Linked DNA regions of Homo sapiens. The protein of the gene in region 3 interacts with the protein of the main gene of each other region in a pairwise test. Each region holds a gene or a part of one and is shown on either strand. Other genes may lie near its edges.

Evidence for each region.
Region 1: the proteins of SASH1 (region 3) and SPG7 interact in a two-hybrid assay, tested with the Homo sapiens proteins (one large-scale study listed by BioGRID).
Region 2: the proteins of SASH1 (region 3) and UTRN interact in a two-hybrid assay, tested with the Homo sapiens proteins (one large-scale study listed by BioGRID).
Region 4: the proteins of SASH1 (region 3) and TNKS2 interact in a two-hybrid assay, tested with the Homo sapiens proteins (one large-scale study listed by BioGRID).

Annotation. Positions count from the first base shown.
Region 1 is NC_000016.10:89,525,403-89,528,902, reverse strand, and holds part of SPG7 (mitochondrial inner membrane m-AAA protease component paraplegin isoform 1 precursor), read right to left. Parts: intron 2,575-3,500; coding exon 2,435-2,574; intron 1-2,434. UniProt on the Homo sapiens protein: Catalytic component of the m-AAA protease, a protease that plays a key role in proteostasis of inner mitochondrial membrane proteins, and which is essential for axonal and neuron development.
Region 2 is NC_000006.12:144,456,335-144,459,834, reverse strand, and holds part of UTRN (utrophin), read right to left. Parts: intron 1,066-3,500; coding exon 824-1,065; intron 662-823; coding exon 481-661; intron 1-480.
Region 3 is NC_000006.12:148,541,838-148,545,337, reverse strand, and holds part of SASH1 (SAM and SH3 domain-containing protein 1), read right to left. Parts: intron 1,659-3,500; coding exon 520-1,658; intron 1-519. UniProt on the Homo sapiens protein: Is a positive regulator of NF-kappa-B signaling downstream of TLR4 activation. It acts as a scaffold molecule to assemble a molecular complex that includes TRAF6, MAP3K7, CHUK and IKBKB, thereby facilitating NF-kappa-B signaling activation.
Region 4 is NC_000010.11:91,836,426-91,839,925, reverse strand, and holds part of TNKS2 (poly [ADP-ribose] polymerase tankyrase-2), read right to left. Parts: exon of another isoform or gene 3,273-3,500; coding exon of another isoform or gene 3,042-3,272; intron 3,008-3,041; coding exon 2,928-3,007; intron 1-2,927. UniProt on the Homo sapiens protein: Poly-ADP-ribosyltransferase involved in various processes such as Wnt signaling pathway, telomere length and vesicle trafficking.

The DNA.
Region 1 (3,500 bases), on a different chromosome or scaffold from region 3:
GAGGTGAAGGCTGCAGTGAGTCAAGATCGTGCCACTGAACTCCAGCCTGAGCTACAGAGCAAGACTCCATCTCAAAAAGAAAAGAAAAATGTAAGAATAAACCCTGTGTCTACTAAAAATACAAAAAAACTTAGCTGGATGTGGTGGTGTGCATCTGTAGTCCCAGCTACTCAGGAGGCTGAGGTGGGAGAATCACTGATCCTGGGAGGTCGAGGCTGCAGTAAGCTGAGATTGCACCACTGCACTCCAGCCTGGGCGACAGAGTGAGACCCTGACTCCAAAAAAAAAAAAAAAAAAAAGCAAATCCCAGGACTTTTGCCCTCATCCTGAGGAGGGGCTGCCCTGGGCCTGCCCCAACCCTCCATCTTCTGTACATCATCAGCCTACAAAGACACGAGAATGGGCCTGCCCCAACCCTCCATCTTCTGTTCTGTACATCATCGGCCTACGAAGACATGAGAATGGGCCTGCCCCAAACCTCCATCTTCTTCTTTTTTTTTTTTTTTTGTTTGAGATGGAGTCTGGCTCTGTCACCCAGGCCAGACTGCAGTGGTGCTATCTTGGCTCACTGTAAGCTCCGCCTCCCGGGTTCACGCCATCCTCCTGCCTCAGCCTCCCGAGTAGCTGGGACTACAGGCACCCGCCACCGCACCCGGCTAATTTTTTTTGTATTTTTAGTAGAGACGGGGTTTCGTCGTGTTAGCCAGGATGGTCTCGACCTCCTGACCTCGTGATCTGCCCGCCTCGGCCTCCCAAAGTGCTGGAATTACAGGCGTGAGCCACCGCGCCCGGCCCAAACCTCCACCTTCTGTCCATCATCGGCCTACGAAGACACGAGAATGGGCCTGCCCCAACCCTCCATCTTCTGTACATCACTGGCCTACAAAGACATGAGACACACAGCCTCAGAGCAGTGATCTTCCAGGTGTTGCTGGGTTATAGAATTAAAGGTGCATCTTTTTTTTTTTTCTGTAGAGATGGGGTTCTCCATGCTGCCCAGACTGGTCTCGAACTTGTGGGCTCAAGAGATCCTCCCTGCCTCAGCCTTCCAAAGTGCTGGGATTACAGGCATAGCCACTGCACCCGGCTAGAGGTACATTTTGATCAAGGGAGTACTTGCCAGTCACTGGCATTCTACATCTTCAGAGATTACAAGTCAACAATAAACCTCTGTTTCAGTACCCGCTGGCCCCTCATTTGTCCTACTAAGGAACCTGTCAGGGTCCATGGTCCATACGTGCTGACAGCTCCCACCTGGTCTGTTTCCCTCTCAACACTGAAATGAGAATTTCACCTTCCTGTGTCTACCCTTTTCCCGTTCCATTTTCCTGTCTGTAGAAGAGAGCAAGCCCAGGACATTATCACGGTCCTCCTTGACTTTCTTTCTTACTGCTAGGCTGATCTTGCCTTGCTAACTGAAAGTGATCGCTTACTTTTGAAAACAAAATATACTGAAAATAGAAAAAGCTGAACGTTGTTATTGTCACAAGGCTGGCCAGATCACTAGGTATCTCCGGCATCTGCACACTCACTCTGACCATTTGGGAAGCTTTCATCAAAGAGCACAGTCAGTGAAAATTATACAAGAATGTGAATTCAGAAGCGCCACACAACTAAAGAAAGTGACTAAACAAACTCCAACGGACTTGCACACGGTTGGCCTCCACAGCCACAGGTTTCATCTCTGCAGGTTTAACCAAGCACAGAATGAATGTATCTGGGGAAAAACGTGCATCTATACTCAACATGCACAGACACATTTTTGTCATTATTCCCTAAAGTATAACAACGATTGAAATAGTATTTACAGGGTATTGGGTATTATTATCAACCTACAGATGATTTAAAGCATATCAGAGAATGTTCTTAGGTTACACACAAAGATTTCGGCATTTTACACCAGGGGCTGAGACTTCGCCATCCTACGTCGGGGGCTGAGACTTCGCCATCCTACGTCGGGGGCTGAGACTTCGCCATCCTACGTCGGGGGCTGAGACTTCGGCATCCTACGTCGGGGGCTGAGACTTCGGCATCCTACGTCGGGGGCTGAGACTTCGGCATCCTACGTCGGGGGCTGAGACTTCGCCATCCTACGTCGGGGGCTGAGACTTCGGCATCTTACGTCGGGGGCTGAGACTTCGGCATCTACATCAGGGGCTTAGACTTCAGCATCCTACACCAGGGGCTTAGGCATCCTCAGGTGCTGGTATCCTTGGGAAGTCCGAGAACCAGCCCCCATGGATACCCAGGGATAACTATATTTCCAAATCTCCTGGCATTGTATCATTCACTTCTATATTTATTTAACCCTCCCACTAAAAAGTCTAGTTAACTATAGGCAAAGACAGTTTGAGATTTTTGATTGCAATCTGTTTCTCAGATTACAAAGCCAAGTTAGGTTTAGTTCAAGCATCAACAAATACATCCAACATACTTTCCAAAGAATCCTGTTCGCTTGTAGGAAACTGGGATCCTGTCCTTGGCCTCGATATTCAGCTCATCTTCAGCTGCTCGAAGCTTCTCTTCAAACTTGTCAATATTTGCAACCTGCATTCGGTACATCAAGGCTAGCCGCTGGGGGGCAGAAAGGAGAGGGGACCATGAGAAACGCAGGGACAGACGAGCAACCCTACAGTCAACAGAGAGCCCGCCTGGAACTCATGGTAATGACAACCTCAGCATTGTGAAGAGGACACCATTCAGAAACTAGAGGTGATTCCTAACGTACGACGGTTCCACTTACGGTCTTTCCATTTTACAATGGTGTAAAAGCAATATGCACACTAAGCTCCTTGACCTACGATGGGGCTACCTCCCAGTGAGCCCCTGGGAAGCTGAAAATATCCTAATTCAAGGAACATCTGTACTTCCAAGTCTAAAAAATTTGTTTCCTCAACCACAATTTGAGAAATAAAATTTCAACAGATAGACTTTCTATTTTCCACTCATAGGAAAACTAAGAAATGGAGGGATGTCTGCAAGTTAGCTCACAGCCCCACGTCTGATGTGTGCCTCAGACTCAGCTACACCTGCAGACACAGCAGGAGCCCCCCAGAGGCCGGCGAGGCTGCAGCACGGGACTGAGGATGGCAAAATCAAGACTACGGCCAAAAACAGATGTTTTAGGAAACTGCGGCCACAGAGGGTTCATGTTTAACCACAAAACCTGAGACTGTTCATCCCTCACACCAGGACACCAACAGGTCCGTCTCCCTGGCACACGATTCTCCAAACGCAGCGTTTTCCTAAGTAAACTCCGCATGTTTAGCTCAGATTTCAGCATGACTGGACGGCAACACCCCAAAGGGAGGACACAGACGGACTTGCGGGACTCTCTTTGAGGTTAACTGGAAACTCCAGCAGAGGACAGGGATGAGGGGTGGGGATGGCACCTGCTGCTCCCTCACTCACACCCCAAACTGCTAAGACAGAATTCTGAGCATTTTCTCTTTAAGGCAGCTGTTTTATCAGGTGACTCGTCTAGAGCTGAGCATAGTGTT
Region 2 (3,500 bases), 4.1 Mb from region 3:
GAAGATCACTTGAGCCCAGGAGTTCTAGACCAGCGTGGGCAACATAGCTAGACCCTGGCTCTACTAAAAATAAAAAACCAGCCAGGCATGGTGGTGCATGCCTGTAGTCCCAGCTACTCAGTAGGCTGAGGCAGAAGGACCACTGAAACCCAGGAGGTCAAGACTGCAGCTATGATTGCACCACTGCTCTCCAGCCTGGGTGACAGAGTGAGATCCTGTAGCTACAAAAAAAAAAATTATTATTATATCCTACTGACACAATTTTAGAGAATGTGAAACTTGCTTGTATGTTTACAAAAAGGTGTGAATCTGGAAAAGAATCTGAATACAGAAGACTTTAAGACTTTGAACAATACAGGCACAAAGGAAAATGGAGAAGGTTGGTGCAAAGCAAGCAAGTGTACTCAAGTTCTAAATGTTGGGAGTCATGTTTACATTAAGGCAAACTGAGACAGGAGATTTTAAAATTGTTGGGTTTACCATTCTCTAGATGTTGTTGACGATCCTCTACAGCCTCTTGTACAGCTTGGTAGCGGCCCAGAAAGCTATCGAAGCCCCGCTGGACAAAATCTGGGGCAGAAGGCTGAGACATCAGGGCCGAGCAGCTTGCACGAGCCATTTCAATTTTGGGGTGAAGGCCAAGAAGATTTGTCAATTCCCGCTAAGGAAGAGAAAATACGGTCACACAACTCACTGAAGATGAACATCCTCACAGGAAGTTAATCAGGGCAGCATTAACTTAAAGTTCATGATACGAGAAGCCCTCCTTAACTCTGGAACTGCACATAGAATTCCTCCACTTTCCAGACCGTTGGCTCCTTACCTGACAGGAATCCTTCAAGCTTGGCAAGGACTGCCGGGAAGATTCAGAAATGGAAGTGTGTTTTACCCACTCCTCCTTTGTCTTGATGACCTTTTCAAGCTCATCAAGCTGCTTGAAATAAGCATTTATATCTTCCTGTAGCTGAATCTTTCTTTCTAGATCTTCCAAATGTTGAGATACATTCTTCCATTCTGATGAAACCTTCTCCAGAACATTTTTTATTTCTTCAGTAGGAAGGCCTTCTATGCAGACATGAAAAACAAGCAAACAGTCTATATATTACAAAATGTGTCTTGAATTTATTCTGAACATTCTAACACTCAGAATAGTGAGGCAATGTCACACATAATGATCACTTTCTTAAGTCCCTTTTAATACAACAACAAAAATTTATAATGATGCACTTAAAAATAATGATGTTTATTTCAATTCCTTGAACAAAGAAGAAAGACATTTTAAAATAACGATTCAGGCACATCAGTAGAACTTCAGCCACTGCCTTTTCTAGATAATATATGTTTCCATCCATGCCATGCTTCTACTCTGCTAGTTTATCACCTGAACCAGTGAAATAAGATCAACTACCTTGATCTGTCTAGGCCCGACTTCAGAAAGAAGACCCTTTGTCCTAAGAAAAAAAGAAAGCTGGCTAGAAAAACTAGGAGGCAGCTCAGGTCTTGGTGACCAAAGCACAGTGTCATATAAATTAAAAAATGAATGGCGAGGATGCCTTATGCTGGGAAGCAACCTGGTGAGTGCAGGAATATTAAGCCAGCAGCCAGGCTCTAGAAGCATCAGCAAGCCCACTGGAGACCTTGCACATAAATAAGCAAATACCAAAAGACTGAGGCAGCAATAAGATGATCTACTTTAGAAACACATCAGGGAAAACAATGCCACCATTTTTATTACTGAAATCTTATCATTTTATTTGTCCGATATTTTTGAAAAGTAGAGAATGTTCCTAAAAATAATAAAGTCATATATAATAATAGGTTTTATCATAGTCCTTCCCTTAATCTAAAATACCTTCAAATCCTCTAAAATGACTATGAAAAAGTATGGGAAATCTTCAAAGGAATCTTTCTATTCGGAGGAAAACATGCATACCAAAAGGATGGCTTCACATTTTTATTGAGTAGGAAAGCAATAAAACAATCCTGCTTTATAAACATATATGATCAAAATCCAGGATAATGAGAGCTTGAACTAAAAAACAAAGGCATAAAAACAAAAAGTCATGTATGATCCACAGACAATGCAACTTTGAAAATTTTTATAATACACTGTGTCTACTGAAAATCATAAATGAGGGCATATCATGCTGTCATTTGAATGTGTCACCTATGTCAATTGCAGAAGTTCACTGTTCACCACCATCTCTCAGGTAAGAGAATATGAGACATAAGCAAAGCATTCACACCACAAGCCATGCTGCATTACCCCTGTTAATGGGGAGAGTATACAAAACAAATCACCATTTTCCTAACAATATGAACAATGGAGATATGGGTCATGCCCCTGCCCCATCATTTCTATTCTAGGCAGGCAAAGGAATAGTAACACCAGCCACATCATCTTTATGTTGGACAATTCATACTAATCAAGGAAGAAAATTAAGTAGGTAAATAAAATTTCTGAGATGGAAAATTACCACTACTCATCTAGAAAACTGGAAAGAGGTGCTCACTTCAAGAACAAGGGCGGTTAAAACAACTTCAGTTATTTTTTCACTGACAATGTCTTACAAGCCATTCATTTTGCCTCTTTAAACCAATTTTAAACATCTGAATCTCCCTTTCTCTAATCCTGAGATATTGCTGGTTACAGTGATGCCCGGTAATGATTCAAACACAATTTACATCTTATAAAAGGAAAACTGCACATTGTCTTTAAAAATAGTTGTTTTACTCCCAGAGATCCAGAGTTTAAAATTTTCTATTTCTATAAAACACAGAGTTCTTAGAAGGTGACTAGTCAAAAGGCAAAATCAACAGAAGATCACTTTATTAATTGTCTAAAAGGGAGAACATAGAACACATTCCTGCCACTCAGTCTCACTTGACTTTACACTTCTCAGTCTATCACTATTGGAATCAAGGGAAACGTTTACAAAACATAGGACCTTCACCAAACTTCCTGGGCTTATATGCTTAGGCAACCACAATGGGCATTGATTCATAAAGCCACATTATCCAGATGCCCAACTACTCTACTGTATTTTACTAGATGAAGAGCTCTAGGAACAAGATAAGCTAAACGAAGAAAACCAAGTATATCAGCTATGAAAGTCAAATGAAACACACTATTTTATTTATTATTATTATTATTATTATTATTATTATTATTATTATTATTTTGAGACAGAGTCTTGCTCTGTCACCAGGCTGGAGTGTAGTGGTGCAATCTCAGCTCACTGCAACCTCCGACTCCCTGGTTCAAGCGATTCTCCTGCCTCAGCCTCCTGAGTAACTGAGATTACAGGCATGTGCCACCATGCCCAGCTAATTTTTGTATTTTTAGTAGAGACGAGGTTTCACCATGTTGCCCAGGATGGTGTTGATCTCCTGACCTCGTGACCCACCCACCTCGGCCTCCCAAAGTTCTGGGATTACAGGTGTGAGCCACTGCGCCCAGCCTCACGCTATTTTATTTTCTAAAATTGTTTCTATGCTCT
Region 3 (3,500 bases):
GACTCTCAGGAATGCATCCTAATAGGACCTGTATTTCCAGGAGTAAAGTACTGCTGTATCTGTTAGCATTGCTTTGTCTTTGGAGTCACTTGGTATTGGTAGATCTCATTTTTTTTGAATGAGAAATAATTTTTCATTATACAGCTAAATGTTTTTGGTACAATGGGGGATTTTATATTATCTTTTTCCCATTACCCATACAGATAACTGTATAATACAATTATCACATCTGAATAGGGTTCTTTTGTCCACATTTATTTTATTTGCTCCTAGTAATCCCTCTAAGAGGTCTTCATGCAGGTTATTTTTAACCTCGGTTTACCTACGGAGAGATGAAATGGGGTGGTGTCAATATCTGAACACATGCATGTCAAGTAAGGTGTGGACACGTGGATTCAGGTGTCTCCTGTCCACTGGGCGGGCTACCGGGCTGGCTTCAGATGTGGGTTCATCTCACCTGGCTGCCTGACTTCTACAAACAAAGGCCTGTGAACGTGGTGGGCCCAGGACCTTTGATACCTTATCAGAATACGGCTCCTCCGTGAGATCGATGCCTTCAGCGTGCAGCTTGTTTTCAGTGAGCGTTTCTAGATCCACTCCCCGGGCACAGGAGACCTTCCTGGTCAAAGCCGGGCCCAGCTTCACACCGTGCTCCTGGAGGCTTGTGTTCTCGGGGAGCTCTGAGAGCCAGGGGGGCGGCCTTGTGCTTGGTGGGCTGCCAGGCGCCTGCCCTGAGAGAGGCCTGGGAGCCAGTGCTGGGGGACAGTCGCTAGGGCTGGTGGGGCTGGCGGGGCTGCCCCTTTTCACTGGCAGGCATGGCGCATCGGGACTGGGGAGGGCCCCACTGGGGCCCATGGGAACAGGGTGGAGTCCGTTAGCAAGGCGTTCTCTGCTCTTTTTGGCAGGAACAGGTGGAGGCTGTGATGGAATTTTGGGCTGCATTCTCTGCTCAGCATCTACCCCTTCTTTGGTGCCCAGGGGATGGTGTGTTCCTTCAAACTCGTGTCCTTTTCTGTGGCCCTCCAGAGGCGTCCTTGCTAAACCGTGTTTAGCTCCAGGAGGCTGAGCATCATAGTTTCTGGGCAAACACTGAGGGGGTGACAGGCCGCGACCAGAGGCTGCGATTGAGCCCTCCAGTTTCTTAGTTGTCAATTTCTGAGGTTCAGAAAATCTCTTGCTTTGGGTCAGTAGCAATGCATTGTCGACAGCAGAGTCTTGCTCCAGGGGCTGGGCCTTCGTGGAAGAGGCGGTCGTCTTCTGTGGCACTTCAGGTACAATCTGAGGGGGCGGTTCTGTCACCTCGGTAGGCACGTCTTGCTCAGCACCAGGCTCCACTTGAAGGTCATCCAGGGAATGGGATCGGGGCCAAGTGTCCACAGTCTGGGGGCCCTCCAGGGTCTCACAGCTCCGGCAGATGGAAACTGGGAGGCTTCTTCGGTTTTTATTCAAACCAGTCACACCAGGTGGGTCACAGCTCTTGGACGTGTCTGGGGCAAGGCCACCACCCAGCCTGCCCTCCTCCTGTCCCTGCTTCAGTGCATCCCCTGATTTCATTAAAGGCAATGTTGGGTAATTGCCCAACTGGTTTCTGCTAAAAGACTTCAAGCTGGGCTCGGTGGATGACTTGGCAGATAGGAGGCTAGCTTTCCGAGTCTTGCCTGTGAGACAAGGGAATATTTTACAATCACATTTTAAAAGCAAATCAATCAAACGGATGCATAAAGTTGTGCTAACATAATTGAAATCTCCAACACCCACATCCTATTGTTCAATTACACTAAAAACATAAAATCACCATTTATGACATCGGGTGATAGAGGGTTATTATGGTTCCATTTTTATTTTTAGAAAGAATTCTTAGTCTTATTAAAGGAATCATGAAGACTGAAATTAATTGGGTTACATGGGAAAGAAATACGCTGTGTCAAGCAGTAAAATAAATCTTGGCTTAAGTCTGTGCCCCACTGCAATCGACGTGGAAAGAGGCTGATCATCATACCGCATATTGATGAGATTTGTTGGGTGAGTACAATTTCTCAAGGTCATGATGGAAAAGGAGAGCTGGACTGAATTTCACAACAGGTTCTATAAATGGTATCCCCTACAGAGTGATCTGTGAATACTCAAATCCCACCTTCCCTGAAGCCCCTCCTTCTAGTAAGTTTATCCTAGAAGCAATCAACCAACCTGGACACAGACAGGTAAACTTTTGTGAGTACTTTGCCAAAGAAAATCTACAAAATACTGATAAAGTTTTAGGTCCCAGCAAAGCAACAGTCCTAGTTACAACTGCCAGACTGATAACTGAACTATCAACCAGACATAATCTACTTATCTGACGACTGGTAGTTGATACTAAACTGCTGCTGTTGGATAAGCTTTGCCAAGAACTTACAATTCATGGGCCAGACAATGTGCTGAATGCTTTGTTCTCATCAGTACTTACATGTGCGCGCGCACACACACACACACACACACACACACACTGTCCCTTGTTACATTTTTGGTTGATAACATGTTTGTTGTGTGCTTTGACCCTGTCCACCTGTATGTTCCACACTGATAAACACCAACATGCTATGCATTTGTAGGATATTATTGTTGTTACATAAAGATCATCAGCCTAGTGCTACTACTGAAGATATTGACCATGGTCCTACTTTTCATTATTAGAAAAATCATCACAACTTAAGGAGGCCAAGGCAGGTGGATCACGAGGTCAGGAGATCGAGACCATCCTGGCTAACACGGTGAAACCCCGTCTCTCATAAAAAATATAAAAAATTAGCCGGGCATGGTGGCAGGCGCCTGTAGTCCCAGCTACTCGGGAGGCTGAGGCGGGAGAATGGCATGAACCCGGGAGGTGGACCTTGCAGTGAGCCAAGATCGCGCCACTGCACTCCAGCCTGGGCGACAGAGCGAGACTCCGCCTCATAAAAAGAAAAGAAAAATCATCACAGATAAATGAAGAAATACCTCTTCAGAAAAAAAAAATTGCATCAGATTTTAAAAGTGGGTTGAAATAGAAAATTATTAGAACCTCTTTAGCATAAATTTAGAAATATGACTTTCTTTTCCCTTAACTCCCAATATAAAACTATATATATAAGTTCCATTTTTGCATTCTGCATTACATTAGAAAGATCCCTGAACTTACTTTGAGTTCAAAGTATGGTTCGCTAGCAATCTAGTTCTTCAGCAGGTACACCTGAATTCATTTGGGCATGAAAAATTCTGCCAGTGATATCTGTGAGATCCTTACCAATCACCAACAGTTGGGGGAATTAATTTCCTGAAAAGTTTTGGATATGAAAAGGTTATTAAGAGAAAAAAAAATTCTTCAGAACCTACATGAGCTACATAAGGATTCTGATGTTTACTGAAACTGAGGATGTACTGGGATACTAGGTGAGTTTTGCATCCTGTCTTGACCGAGGCTATCTGAATATTATATATAGTTTGGGGAGAACTACTATCTTCCCAAGTTGATAGAAAACCTT
Region 4 (3,500 bases), on a different chromosome or scaffold from region 3:
CATAGAGGTACATGAGATTACGGTAGTACCAGCATTACCAAGGAGCTTATTAAGAATTCAGAATCTCAGATCTCTATCTACTGAGTCAGAATTTGCCCTTTAACAAGATCCCTAGGTAATATGGAAACACATTAAAGTTTGAAAAGTACTCCTTTAGAGCAGTGGTTCTCAAACTTTAATGTGCATTGGGTCCAACCCTCAAATTTTCAGTGTAACTGGTGTGGAGCCTAAAAATCTCCACTTCTAACAAGTTCTTGGGTGATGCTGATGCTGGTGGTTCAGTAACCATACCACTCCATGTGGAATGAAATAACTAATAGAATGCTGATGGTTAGGCTGAACGTGGTGGCTCATGCCTGTAATCACAGCACTTTGGGAGGCTGAGGCGGGCAGATCACTTGAGGTCAGGAGTTTGAGACCATCCTGGCCAACATGGCAAAACCCTGTCTCTACTACTTGGGAGGGTCAAGCAGGAGAATCGCTTGAACCTGGGAGGCAGACGTTGCAGTGAGTTGAGATCGTGCCATCACACTCCAGCGTGGGTGACCAACCCAGACTCCATCTCCAAAAAAGAAAAAAGGAAAAAAAAATGCTGATGGTTTATACAGTCCTGGGGAGAATTAAGAAAACAGTCAATTTTCTGTGCTCTTTGGTTCAGAGGAGGAAGTGTAGTTATGAAAAGTATGAAAGTTTGGGGAAGAAAAGCAACATAGATAATAAATCAGAGTGCTTAAAGAGTCAAAAGAATATATCTATCTTAGGCCGGGCACGGTGGCTCACGCCTGTAATCCCAGCACGTTGGGAGGCCAGGCGGGTGGATCACCTGAGGTCAGGAGTTCGAGACCAGCCTGGCCAACATGGTGAAACCGTCTCTACTAAAAATACAAAAAATTATCTGGGCGTGGTGGCGGGCGCCTGTAATGCCAGCTACTCGGGAGGCTGAGGAAAGAGAATTGCTTGAACCCGGGAGGTGGAGGTTGCTGTGAGCCGAGATCGTGCAATTGCACTCCAGCCTGGGCAACAAGAGTGAAACTCCATCTCAAACAAACAAACAAACAAAAAGAATATATCCATATTAGTAAAAACTCTTTCCCCCTTTTTACTAACCTACTCCCAAAACAGGGATAACCTAAGCTCAATAAAATAAAGGAGCCTACTATCAGTGGGTTTACCTCAAGGGGTTTAATCATTGTCCTGGTAAAAAGCTCTTCTGTGCTTCCCAAATAAGATCTGGCTAGATATACAGATTCAGGGCCCCATTCAAGAGATGGTATTTCAGTGGGTCTCAAGTCAGGTTCCTAGAAATGACTATTTTTAACACGTGTACCAGGTGCTGCTTGGTTTGGTAGTTATCACAGGCCATTCTACTCTTTACCTGTCAGTTTAATTTTGTCCACTCTGAGATAGGTTTTCTAATAGCATGTGTCGAATAAAGTATCCAGCCTGGTGGATTATCAGTGAACAAACACAACTGAGCACAATAGTTAAGTGTTCATTAGGTAATACGCAGATGTTCTTGTCCCAGTGATTCGTACAGAGCCATCTGTCTGGAGGTAGATAAGAAGAATGGCTGATGGAGATAAATGTCCATCAAGTGATTTTAAAAGCAGAGGGGAGGGAAGAAAGCCTGATGCCTAGCACAGGTTTTCCTGAATCCAATGGCATTACTGTGTTCCCTAAGTCCATTTCCTGCCCCCCAACTTCATCTCCTCTTTATCTATCCCCTCCTCTGGACTCCCTCTATCTTTATAAAAACAAAGTTTAGTCTTTAACATGTTTACTAAATATAGTTTTATGTTCTTTAATATATGTAAGAGAATGAGCATTTACAATTCTGTATCTCTCCCTTCCCACAAACAGCAAAAAAAAAAAAAAAAAAAAAAAAAAAATCAGCTAATTGCTTTCAACTCAATTTTCATGTTTCCTGAAAAAAAAATCAGTTCACAACCTTTTAACTGAAGTAATTTGTATTTCCACAAGTCAGTAGTAATAGAAACAAAATCCTCCTTTCGATATCCTATTAGCCTCCTACTTAAGGGAATGAGAATAATGAGGATCAAAATAAAAACATGTCAAATAATAAAACTGCATGATAGTTGCATTTTTCTGTGAGAAATGAATTTAGAAAACAAATCTGAAGTTATCTGAGATGTCTATACTGTCTCAGCCTCCCAAGTACCTGGGATTACAGGTGCATCCCACTACGCCCAGCTAATTTTTGTGTCTTTAGTAGAGACGGGGTTTCGCCATGTTGGCCAGGCTGGTCTGAAACTCCTAACCTCAGGTGATCCACCCGCCTCAGCCTCACGAAGTGCTGGGATTACCGACAGGTGTGAGCCACTGGGCCCAGTTTTACATACATATTTCTACAGCAAGAGTCAAAACAGTAAGAAGGGTTACTCTGGGGAAGACTCTTGTCGGAGAAACAGGTAAGACCTGAAGTTGCAAGCCCTGGGAAAGAGAAGTGGCAACATTGTATTTATTATTATACTAAGCCCTGGATCCCTAGAGGTAGATGGGGTGAAGAAATGAAGAAATCAGAAGAAATCTATAGACAGAAGTGATACACTGTTTTTCCCCTTTCTTGTTTTATGTGTCATACGTAAACAGTAATATAAAATAATTTGATAAACTTTATTCTGTTAAAGGGACAAATGAATAGGTTCTTCAAGCAAAACCCATTTGGTATTACCCGAATTTATTTATATTTGTGAATGTAATATTCACTGGGATGCAGGTGAAAGTGAAGTCTTTCTCTTTCATTACTTAAAGCTACTCATTTGTAGAGAACAATTAAGATTGTATTATTGACCTTTTAAGGCAAGGCCCATACAAATAAACCAGGCTCTTCATTGTAACAGTACAGATTAAATAACAATGTCAAAATAAAAACCCAAAGTTAACAGAAACGTAACACTGTATCTTACTTTTACAGTTTCGACATCTCCAGCCTTTGCAGCTTCCAGCAATTGTCTGTCTGCCTCTGAATTACCTAATGAGATACCCTCTAAAAAAGAGAGAGAGAGAGAAGAGTGACTAACCTCTATTTGGAAGATGGAACCAAGCTTTATGGAAGGCATCTCATCAGAAAGCAAAGTTCTTTTACAATTTGGTAGATTATGTACGAGATCTCCATGGTAGTAAGGGGGGTGAGGGTTGGGGAGTGAAAAATAAGATTCTCTTAAAACTCTTTGAAATACAACACATATAAGCAAAATATGTAAATGTGTATAATGATTATAAAATGTGATGTAAGCAATATAAAGGAACATAAAGGAGATGACTAAAGATGGCCTGCTCTATAAGCAAGCCATTGGAATGGTGCAAAAGTATTAAATTAAGAGAGCAAACAGAAATCTAACTGTGGTTCTGTCATTAATTAGCTATCTGAACTGGAACAAGTCACTGGAACTTCCTGGTTCTCAGATTTTTTCAGTTCTAAAGACATAAGGTAGACTAGTAGAAATGTAACATCATTTCCAGGTCTGAAATTCTAAGTT